3 linked regions of the Homo sapiens genome follow. The protein of the gene in region 2 interacts with the protein of the main gene of each other region in a pairwise test. Each region holds a gene or a part of one and is shown on either strand. Other genes may lie near its edges. The genes, in order: IDI1, CAT and MTARC2.

Region 1 (4,317 bases), on a different chromosome or scaffold from region 2:
ATGTGTCACATGATGGTGTTTCGGTACACTACAGACTGCATATACTACAGTGGTTCCATAAAATTATAACAGAACTGACATATTCCTATTGCTAATGATGTTGTAGCCATTGTAACATCGGAGCACAACACATCACCTTTTCTATGTTTAGATACACAAATACTTGCTGTTGTGTTACAACTGCCCACATTATTCAGCACAGTCACACACTGTCCAAATTTAGGCCTGAAGCAACAGGAAAAACAGCCTAAGAGCAACTGGCTACACCACACAGCCCAGCTGCTCCACTGTCTGTCTACACCACACAGCCCAGCTGCTCCACTGTCTACACCACACCGCCCAGCTGCTCCACTGTCTACACCACACAGCCCAGCTGCTCCACTGTCTACACCACACAGCCCAGCTGCTCCACTGTCTACACCACACAGCCCAGCTGCTCCACTGTCTACACCACACAGCCCAGCTGCTCCACTGTCTACACCACACAGCCCAGCTGCTCCACTGTCTACACCACACAGCCCAGCTGCTCCACTGTCTACACCACACAGCCCAGCTGCTCCACTGTCTACACCACACAGCCCAGCTGCTCCACTGTCTACACCACACAGCCCAGCTGCTCCACTGTCTACACCACACAGCCCAGCTGCTCCACTGTCTGTCTACACCACACAGCCCAGCTGCTCCACTGTCTACACCACACAGCCCAGCTGCTCCACTGTCTACACCACACAGCCCAGCTGCTCCACTGTCTACACCACACAGCCCAGCTGCTCCACTGTCTACACCACACAGCCCAGCTGCTCCACTGTCTACACCACACAGCCCAGCTGCTCCACTGTCTACACCACACAGCCCAGCTGCTCCACTGTCTACACCACACAGCCCAGCTGCTCCACTGTCTACACCACACAGCCCAGCTGCTCCACTGTCTACACCACACAGCCCAGCTGCTCCACTGTCTACACCACACAGCCCAGCTGCTCCACTGTCTACACCACACAGCCCAGCTGCTCCACTGTCTACACCACACAGCCCAGCTGCTCCACTGTCTACACCACACAGCCCAGCTGCTCCACTGTCTACACCACACAGCCCAGCTGCTCCACTGTCTACACCACACAGCCCAGCTGCTCCACTGTCTACACCACACAGCCCAGCTGCTCCACTGTCTACACCACACAGCCCAGCTGCTCCACTGTCTACACCACACAGCCCAGCTGCTCCACTGTCTACACCACACAGCCCAGCTGCTCCACTGTCTACACCACACAGCCCAGCTGCTCCACTGTCTACTGTCTACACCACACAGCCCAGCTGCTCCACTGTCTACACCACACAGCCCAGCTGCTCCACTGTCTGGTCCTTTGTCTACACCACACAGCCCAGCTGCTCCACTGTCTACACCACACAGCCCAGCTGCTCCACCGTCTGTCTACACCACACAGCCCAGCTGCTCCACTGTCTAGGTCTGCGTCAGCGCACTCTGCTTCCACAATGATGAAAGTACCTAACAATGAACTTCTCCAAAGTATCCCTGTTAAGTGATGCGGGCCGAACGTTAAATTATCATCTGTAGATGATCTCTTATAGTATCTAAAACATGTAAATCCTACATAAATAGTTGTGCTGTATTGTTTACAGAATAAGTCTGTATATGTTCAGTACAGATGAAATTTTTTTCCAAATATTTTATAATGTGCAGTTGGTTAAATCCATGGATATGGACCCCAAGGATACAGTAGGCCAACTGTATATTAGGTGATCACTAAGATAGGTTTCGTTACTACATAATTACTAGACTTTTTGACATGACTTTTTTTCCGGGGGGATGGGGCTGGGTCTTGCTATGTCTGTCGCCCAAGCTGGAGTGCAGTGGCGCGATCTCGGCTCACTGCAGCCTTCGACTCCGCCTCCCAAAGTGCTGGGATTAAAGGCGTGCACCACCGCCCAGCTGTAATGACAATTGCTCTTTCAGGATTTTCAGAATTCAGATTTTAAAGCTAAGCTGCATAATCACAAGATAAAATGAATACGTCTATTTATGCGTTTAAAGAATACCATGTAGTAGACGCGGGAACACATCATCCAACCCAAGAAAAAGGTCTAGTTCCATCTATGCGATGCTCCCCATCTCTTCTCCTGCTCCATTCCCAGGAGAAGCGCCTTGAGTGTGTTGCTGTCACCCTCTTGCACGGACGCAGGTGTATGCACCCGCGTCACACGCGTGGACTCGGCACGGGGAGGCCGGTGTCGTCACGCTCGTGTTTCTGACGATGCTGTCTACGCTTGTTTCTGAATTCTCTAAGGGGAGACTCGCAACTCTTAGTCTCCTGCGACTCGGTTTCCAGTTCCACGAGTTCCTAAACCTCAGGTGACTGTGCGCAGACGACGATCTTTTCCGCTGACAAAGAATGGCAACGTCTCTGACGCCCCGACTCACGCCTCCGCCTTCCACGGGGCGCGGGCGCCCACCACAGCCCGGGAAGGCCCGGCCTCCCTCCAGTTCGGGAGACCAACGCCGCCACCCCCAGCTGTCCAGGCCTCCGCGCCGAGACCTCACGGGTGGCTCAGACCTCGGGCCTCCTCCCCGCCCCGTCCCGCAGCTCCCCGATGCCGCCCTGCCCCTGTCTCCCGAACTCCGCCGCCCGTCCACAGTACCTGATCAGCCTCCGGCCACAGACAACCGCCGGTCCCGGATGGCGCCCGCTTTGAGCACAGTCTGCGGCGCGCACCGCCCACTGGCCCCGCCCCCGGGCCGCGCAGCCAATCGCTCGCGCCAGCGCCAGTCCACGCCACATCGCCCGGCCAATTGGCGCCCGTACGCGCTTGACGACACAATCTCGCCAAGCTTCGCCTGGTGGTGCCACCTCCCTGGCCTGTGACAACGGCAGACGCGCGAAGCACCGGGAACCTGAGCCGTGACCGCGGGCTCTGGCGCCTTTAAGGGGGTCAACACGCCCCACCCCCAGTTCCGCAGAGGCAGCGTCCCGCGACTGGGCGGTGCCCGAGACCACAGACGCCGCCAGCCAATCACGCTTTCGATCCTGCCGTGCGAGCCCGAGGCGCTGCGAACGGTGCCTAACGTCAGACGTCTCGAGGCTCGCGTTCCATGGAGGAAGCCCTCCCAATCCGAAAGCGCCCGGGCGCCAAGCCCTGCAGCCGGAAGCTCGGCGTCCCATGGGAGCGACCTCCGCATGGCTGGACCAATGGAAACGGAGGAAAGGCGGGACGTCACTGCTGACTGGCTGGTTGGGCACTCCCCCCCCTCCCCCCCCCCGAGTTCCGCCGCTGGGACTACAGCGTTTGGCTGCACGGGGAGTTCTCGTATGTCTAGAACGATGGCCTTTCTGCGGTGTCTGCGACCGGGACCAAGGCGGAGCAAAGTCGCCGGGGGTGTGGGGTGTTCCACGCTATGTTGGGAGTGTTCGCTTTCGAGGTACATGACTACGTTCTAAATTTTTTTTTTTTGAGACAGTTTCATTCTTGTTGCCCAGGCTTGAGTGCAATGGTGCAGTCTCCGCTCACAGCAACCTCCGCCGCCCGGGTTCAGGCAATTGTCCCGTCTCAGCCTCCCAAGTAGCTGGAATTACAGGCATGCGCCACCACGCCCGGCTTATTTCGTATTTTTAGTAGAGACGGGTTTCCGCATGTTGGTCAGGCTGGTCTGGAACTCCTGACCTCAAGTGATCCACCTGGCTCAGCTTACCGAAGTGCTGAGATTCCGGGTGTGAGCCACCGCGCCTAGCCCTCTAAACTTTTAAATAATCGTGAAATGTATGCGCAGCTGAAGCGAATTCAGCTATTTCCTCTACCTTTTGTGTGGAATTTAAAATACTGAACTTGTGAGATGAACCTGGTGGGCACCAGTTCTCAAACTTCTTGGTCACAGGACGCTTGCACTCTCTTAAAATGTACTGAGGACACCTAAAAGCTTTTGCTCACTGTTGTTTACTACTGCTATTTACTAACATAGAAATTAAACATATTAAAATATTCACTTAAAAAACACACGACACTAACATAAGTTATATTTTTATTAAAAATCTTTTCCAGACAAAAAACAGACTTTGATTTTGTTTTATGTGTTGACAGATCTCTTTCATGTCTGGCTTCACACAGATAAGAAAATCTGGCCTCCCGCATGCGCAGCAAGTCCTCACTGCTGTCAGTGCGTTCTTGGGAATCAGGACTTTTAAGTGAAACAACGTATAGCAAAACCAATTTTACCAGAGGCTAAAAAATAAGGATTAAGTTCCTAAAGCATACTTCTGGCCAAGGAAAAAAAAAATCACTAAGCTTCTAAAGGCCAAAGTATTC
Region 2 (2,777 bases):
AGTAACTGGGACTACAGGCATGCGTTACCATACTCGGCTAATTTTTGTATTTTTTGTACAGACAGGGCTTCGCCATGTTGCCCCGGCTGGTCTCAAACTCCTGAGTTCAAGTGATCCTCCTGCCTTGGCTTCCCAAAGTGCTGGGTTTACAGGCATATGAGCCACCACACCCGGCACAAACTGGTTTTGAATATGAACGGAATAAAGATTTTCAAGGAAAACAAATTTTCATTTAGTATTCAGAACTCATCTTTAAAGTCTTCCATGTGATTTTCAACCATGATAGGCAAATATGGGCTTTAAAAAGAAGGAAGAGGAAAGTGACCAGTGGTTCTGAGCCCTTGTTTTAAAAAGTCAATCACAGGTAAGTGAGCAAATGGACAAGAGATTTAAGTAATTTTCAAAGTTGGGGCATTTGCTATTTTATCAGTGTCTCAGAAGGCTGTCCAAAGGCTATAGATTTAAACAAATAACATGGAGTCCTCGAGATACTGGCATTTCCATTTTTAAGGGTAAACATCTGAAAATGATGATGTTCAAATTAAGAGTCTGGTAGCAGTTTACAGTTACATATGGAGTCGAAAGAAAGAAAATACCATCTCTGTTCTTACGTACAGATTATTTATTGTAAAAATGTAAGCAATTACAAATTGATCTGTTGTGAAATCAGTGCTGAATTAACATTAATGTAACTCCAGTGAAAAAAATGAATTTGATCAATTATTATCAGGAATAAACATTAAGCCATGACGGTGCTCAAGTTATCTTCTGATGACACTGCTGTATTAAATGTACTTTTCCTATGAGAACCTTAGAAAAATAAAAATTTCTGAGTAGATCATCTTTATCTTTTCTTTTTATATATTTATAGCCATATTTTAATATAATAGGCCATGAGGTGATATGTAAACATACATAATTTCAACAAATTTTGTCAAATAAAATCATATTTCTAGCTAGAAACTTGCCTTCTAATCATTTTAAATGAATAATCCAATCATCCGTCAAAACAAATTTTTTTTTTAAATGACTGTTAAATCCTAACCTTCATTTTCCCCTGGGGAAATAGCATTAAAATTGTTACACAATCTGCTATAGAAAGTGGGATTCTCTATTTTGAAGCCACTAGCTTGCATTTGCACATCTAGCACAGGAGAATCTTCATCCAGTGATGAGCGGGTTACACGGATGAACGCTAAGCTTCGCTGCACAGGTGCAGGGCCCCGGCCTCACAGATTTGCCTTCTCCCTTGCCGCCAAGTGAGATCCGGACTGCACAAAGGTGTGAATCGCATTCTGTTTTAAAAGAACAAGATGAGCAGGTTAATCACCTCATGGGCAGCAACGTGATATTTACTCAGTTTTAATATGTATGCAAATGAAAATAATAATTCAGAATTCATTCACTTTAACTGTCTTAAATTGCCCAGCGCTAAAATGAAGAGTATGTGTTTTGCCAGTGAATTCTTTATCTCTCAAATGAATTTCTGCACAGCTGCCTAAGAAATCTAACAGTGGCAGGTAATGGCCCCTGCAGACTGTAATGCTAAGTGGTAACTAAGTCATGCCTACTCCAACCCAGCACACACAGCCTCTGCATGGCCAGGCTGCTCCCAGCTTACCTTAGGCTTCTCAGCATTGTACTTGTCCAGAAGAGCCTGGATGTGGCTCCCGTAGTCAGGGTGGACCTCAGTGAAGTTCTTGACCTAAGGCCAAAGGAAAATAAATGCAAGCATTACTCTAACTCCCTACTATATCACTCCCCAGGGACTGTGGTTTCCCAGTGTTTATTCCATAGGGGAGGAAAGACGTTTCAGCAGGAGGCAGTACTACAGGTGTTTAACAATGCCAGCCTCAGAGTTAAGATGCAGGTCCAGTGAACACTCTGACATATACTGGCTGAGCAACCTCGGATAGGTCACTTAACTTACTGAGCTTATGTCCCTCTGCCGAAATGCGCAAGAAAATGACACCTAATCAGTATAATTTTAAAAATACTATTTGGTCTTTGTCCCCCATTCCTGACACAGATCTAAAACCCTTCGAATGTACTGTCTTTTATATACTACTAAGATGATTCATGGGGGCCTACATAGATTCCTGATGGAGGCTCACACCAGGAAGAACAAGCACGCGATCAGAAGGTTAGAACTTCTAGCCCCACCCCCAAACCTCCAGGGATGGGAGAGGGGCTGGAGATTGTATTCAATCACCCATAGCCAATAATTTCATCAATCATGCCTATGTCATAAAACCTCCAGAAAAACCCACAACTGGCAAGGTCAGGGAGTGTCTGGATTAGTGCACACATCCAGGAGCTAGAAGGGTGGTCCACTCAGGGAGGCACAGAAGCTCCGAGGCCTTCCCCCATGCCCCTCTTCCATTTGTCTATTCCTGAGTTGTATTCTTTATAATAAATTGGTAATCATAAGTAAATCATTTTCCTGAGTTCTATGAGTCTTTCCAGCAAATTATCAAACCTGAGGAAAGGGTTTGATTTGCAGTCAGAATCTGCAGAAGTGTGCATAGCCAGGGTACCTCATTTGTTATCTAAAGTGGGAAATGACCCCTAAATCTTTGGGTTCTGACTCTAGCTCCAGGAGCTACTGTTAGAATTGAATTGAGTTATAGGACACACAGTTACTGTCAAAGAATTACAGAATTGCTTATTGTCGGGGAAAAAAACCCATACAACCTAGGCCAGGCGCAGTGGCTCACGCCCGAAATCCCAGCACTTTGGGAGGCCAAGATGGGTGGATCACCTGAGGTCAGTAGTTC
Region 3 (3,650 bases), on a different chromosome or scaffold from region 2:
CAGGGCACACTCAGAAAATCCTCTTCCACCTCCCAACAGCTTCCCTCCAGCTTTCTACTTCCTCAGAACTCTCCACCCACCCCGTCTTGGGACCTAACAATCATTTTCCAGACAATTATCCAGGTCTGGCCAAATGATTTGGGTCTAAAAGTTGGTGACCCCAGAAAGAGCTTATTTGGCGGAAACAGTTCTGGGAGAGTGTCTGGCTGATGTATGGCAATCTCCAGTTTCAAAAACAAGAACATGAGCCTGGCTCAGAGACTCTCCCTCACTGCTTAGTCAACCCTGCTGCTTGTCTGGGGGTTCTGCTTTGGTTAGAAGCTTCTGCAGGTCTGTTAAATATGTCTCTGTGGCCCTGGGAGAAGTAAAATAGCTTTCAGGTCCTTTTGTTGTAGAACAAGATGAGGTTGGCCAAGTGAGTTTGAGTCTGAGACAAAGGTCTTGCAATGTTGCTGCCTCCAAGCGGAACCAGGCCAGCCTCTGCTCTGTTTAACTTGCCGCGGCATGCGGGGGTCCTACATCAGGAAACCTCCCAAACAGCCTTTCCTCTTCATGCACACATTCTGACATAGAGAACAAAGACACACAGAAGTCACATGTTAGATAAGAATCCCACTTATTTCCTAGAGAGCCCACTGTACTGGACTTGGTTTTCTTACTTTGTATTTCTATGGGATGAGCTGAAGAGTGAGGGGAAGCTGGCCAGGCCCAGTTGGTTAGGCTTTTACCTACAGCCTAGCATATAGGTTGGGGCTGTACCACACAAAAGACTGTGTTGCCAAAAAGAAAAAAATCTTCCACTCCTAGGGAAAATAAATTTCAATATCACAGTTTAGTTTCATTTTGTTTTGTTTCGTTTAGTTGTTTTGTTTCATTTCGTTTGAGACAGAGTCTCACTCTGTCAGCCAGGCTGGAGTGCAGTGGTACAGTCTAGCTCACTGCAACCTCCACCTCCTTGGTTCAAGTGATTCTCTTGCCTTAGCCTCCCGGGTAGCTGGGATTACAGGTGTGTACCACCACGCCCAGCTAATTTTTGTACTTTTAGTAGAGATGGGGTTTCGCTATGTTGGCTGGGCTGGTCTTGAACTCATGGCCTCAAGTGACCTGCCGCCTCAGCCTCCCAAAGTACTGGGATTATAGGCATGAGCCACTGTGCCTAGCCCAATATCACTATTTTAGAAAGAAGATAGAATCTGCAGACTAGCGGGTGAGGAAAATGCAGGCACTGATAAGTAAAAATTGTCTGAAAGCCAGAGGCTTTCCAAATGTGAGGAGGATAAAAAGCACAGCCCCTTCCAGAAGCAGGGGCGGCTCCTCCCAGGGAGACATTCCAAAATATGACCAGAGCCATCAGGGAAAGGCTGAGGAGACCTCAGGAGGACATCCAATATCCCAGCACAGGGAGCTCCGTCTCTGCCCTGTCCTGACCCTGACAGATAGTCTTACATCTGCAACCTCCTTATCCGTAAAGTCCTTTCCAGGTGCTGGCTAAACTGTCCCTTCCCCGCAACCACACCAGAAGACAATGGCTGGCAGCCTGTGCTCTGCTAACTGGCATTATGATGGTGTGGCAGTGTAAAGGCATTCCAGTAACTGTCTTGACTACCTGCTTCCAAAAAGCTGGTGACACTGGGTAGCAGCAAGTCCCCACCCCACTGAGGAGACCACCTTTTTCTTTCTTTCTTTTTTTTTTCTTTTTTTCTGAGACGGAGTCTCACTCTGTCACCCAGGCTGGAGTGCAGTGGCACGATCTCGGCTAACTGCAAGCTCCACCTCCTGGGTTCACACCATTCTCCTGCCTCAGCCTCCCATGTAGCTGGGACTACAGGCACCCGCCACCATGCCCGGCTAATTTTTTGTATTTTTTTTTTTTTTTTTTTAGTAGAGACAGGGTTTCACCGTGTTAGCCAGGATGGTCTCGATCTCCTGATCTCATGATCTGCCCACCTCGGCCTCCCAAAGTGTTGGGATTACAGGCGTGAGCCACCGTGCCCAGCCCACCATTTCCTAAGTGTATATATGCATATGTGTATTATTTATTCATTTATATATATTTATACTTAATTAATATCAAGAGAGAGGGAGACAGGGTCTCACTCTATCACCCAGGCTCTGGAGTACAGCGGCGTGATCTTAGCTCATGGCAGCCTTGAACTGCTGGGCTCAAGCGATCCTCCTGCCTCAGTCTCCTGAGTAGCTGGGACTACAGGCACACACCACCACGCCCAACTGATCTTTTTATTTTTTGTAGAGATGGGGTCCCACTGTGGTCTGGACCTCCTGGCTGGTCTGGAACTCCTGGCTCAATTAATCCTCCCTCCTTGGCCTCCCAAAGTGCTGAGATTACAGATGTGAGCCATCCTGCCTGGTCAAAGATGTCTTTAGATCCCACAGTTCTCTGGCTCACTCATCCTGGGGCTGGGTTCTGTAAATCTGAGGATGTCTGCCCAGAGAATGGGGCTACAGTGAAATAGGCAGGCATCCACTGACTTAGATGCCTCACAGGGCTGGGCCCTATTCCCTATTTCCAGCCTTGTCCCTTGGTGCACATTTCTTTGGTTAGCCTCACTAAAGCCTTCACCCTTAACTTCCAACATGCCCCTTCCCCAGACAAGACTCCCTTTGAGATCTGCACACAACCAGAGCCATGTCCAAACAGGAGTGGCAAACCTGTTTGCACATTATTTCTGACATTATTTCTCCATGGGCTGAATCTTCTCATCTCCCATTCATCCCTTATTAATGTCGCCCTTCACCGTGGCTCACAGCCTGGCCTGTGGCTCCAGACTGTTGTATAATAATACAGGTGTTAACTGCTGAGGTTAACAGTGGGAAGTTGTCACTAGAGGTTTCCCACTCATCACTGTCACTGAAAAACTGGCAACTTACAGGGAGTCCAATTTTGGAACAGGACAAATACAGCAATCACAGGTTAAAAGGTTACCATTTGTAACATACCCCAACCATCTCATTTCCCTGTCAACCTGGGCAATATTATTTTTCACCTCTTGTGCACAAAATGATGCCCAGTGAATGAATAACTAGTTCTATTCTGCCAGATCTGAAAGAAGAGATAAGTCTGGAGCATAGATTTCATCATAACCAAGTTACCCCAACCTAGTCTGCAACACTAAAAGCCAGCACCTTGAATTCACAGGTAAAACATGAGTATGTGGTAGAGGGATCAGTGTAGAAGCCTGGAGCCCCGATTCCCCAAAAGAGCTATAGAGCCCCGAACAACCAACAGCAACGGGTAAGTGGAGCCCAAAACAACAGAAAAAAATATCATTTCTCAATTACAAACTGGCCTGGGGAGCAGGAAGGACTGAAAAGTGAGGGAAAGCAGGAACTCTACTACTGAGTGTGGGAGGAGAAAAACAGCAGGAATTGGGCAGGGAATAACACCCTGGACAATAATAAACTTAAGGGATTCCTTTCTCCAACAGTTCATCATTTGTGCAGAAGAAATAAAGGACTGGCTTCAGTAAGGGTTTAGAGAGATAAAACTGATCAACTCACATATGGCTGCTAAGGAGAGCAGAGATTTCCAAGGTCAGGGAGGACAAGCACGCCCTCCCAGCAACTGCACCAGGCACCGAATGCCAGCATTCTGCCAGGTGGACTTTAAACACTCAATGCTTAGGGTGCTC

What was found.
Region 1: the proteins of CAT (region 2) and IDI1 come close enough for resonance energy transfer, tested with the Homo sapiens proteins (one large-scale study listed by BioGRID).
Region 3: the proteins of CAT (region 2) and MTARC2 come close enough for resonance energy transfer, tested with the Homo sapiens proteins (one large-scale study listed by BioGRID).

What each region holds. Positions count from the first base shown.
Region 1 is NC_000010.11:1,046,206-1,050,522, forward strand, and holds the start of IDI1 (isopentenyl-diphosphate Delta-isomerase 1), read right to left. Parts: upstream 2,915-4,317; 5' UTR 2,799-2,914; coding exon 2,659-2,798; exon of another isoform or gene 2,114-2,658; coding exon of another isoform or gene 2,059-2,113; intron 1-2,058. UniProt on the Homo sapiens protein: Catalyzes the 1,3-allylic rearrangement of the homoallylic substrate isopentenyl (IPP) to its highly electrophilic allylic isomer, dimethylallyl diphosphate (DMAPP).
Region 2 is NC_000011.10:34,469,886-34,472,662, reverse strand, and holds the end of CAT (catalase), read right to left. Parts: intron 1,706-2,777; coding exon 1,622-1,705; intron 1,296-1,621; coding exon 1,230-1,295; 3' UTR 603-1,229; downstream 1-602. UniProt on the Homo sapiens protein: Catalyzes the degradation of hydrogen peroxide (H(2)O(2)) generated by peroxisomal oxidases to water and oxygen, thereby protecting cells from the toxic effects of hydrogen peroxide.
Region 3 is NC_000001.11:220,751,281-220,754,930, reverse strand, and holds part of MTARC2 (mitochondrial amidoxime reducing component 2 isoform a precursor), read right to left. Parts: intron 3,602-3,650; exon of another isoform or gene 3,522-3,601; coding exon of another isoform or gene 3,520-3,521; intron 1-3,519. UniProt on the Homo sapiens protein: Catalyzes the reduction of N-oxygenated molecules, acting as a counterpart of cytochrome P450 and flavin-containing monooxygenases in metabolic cycles.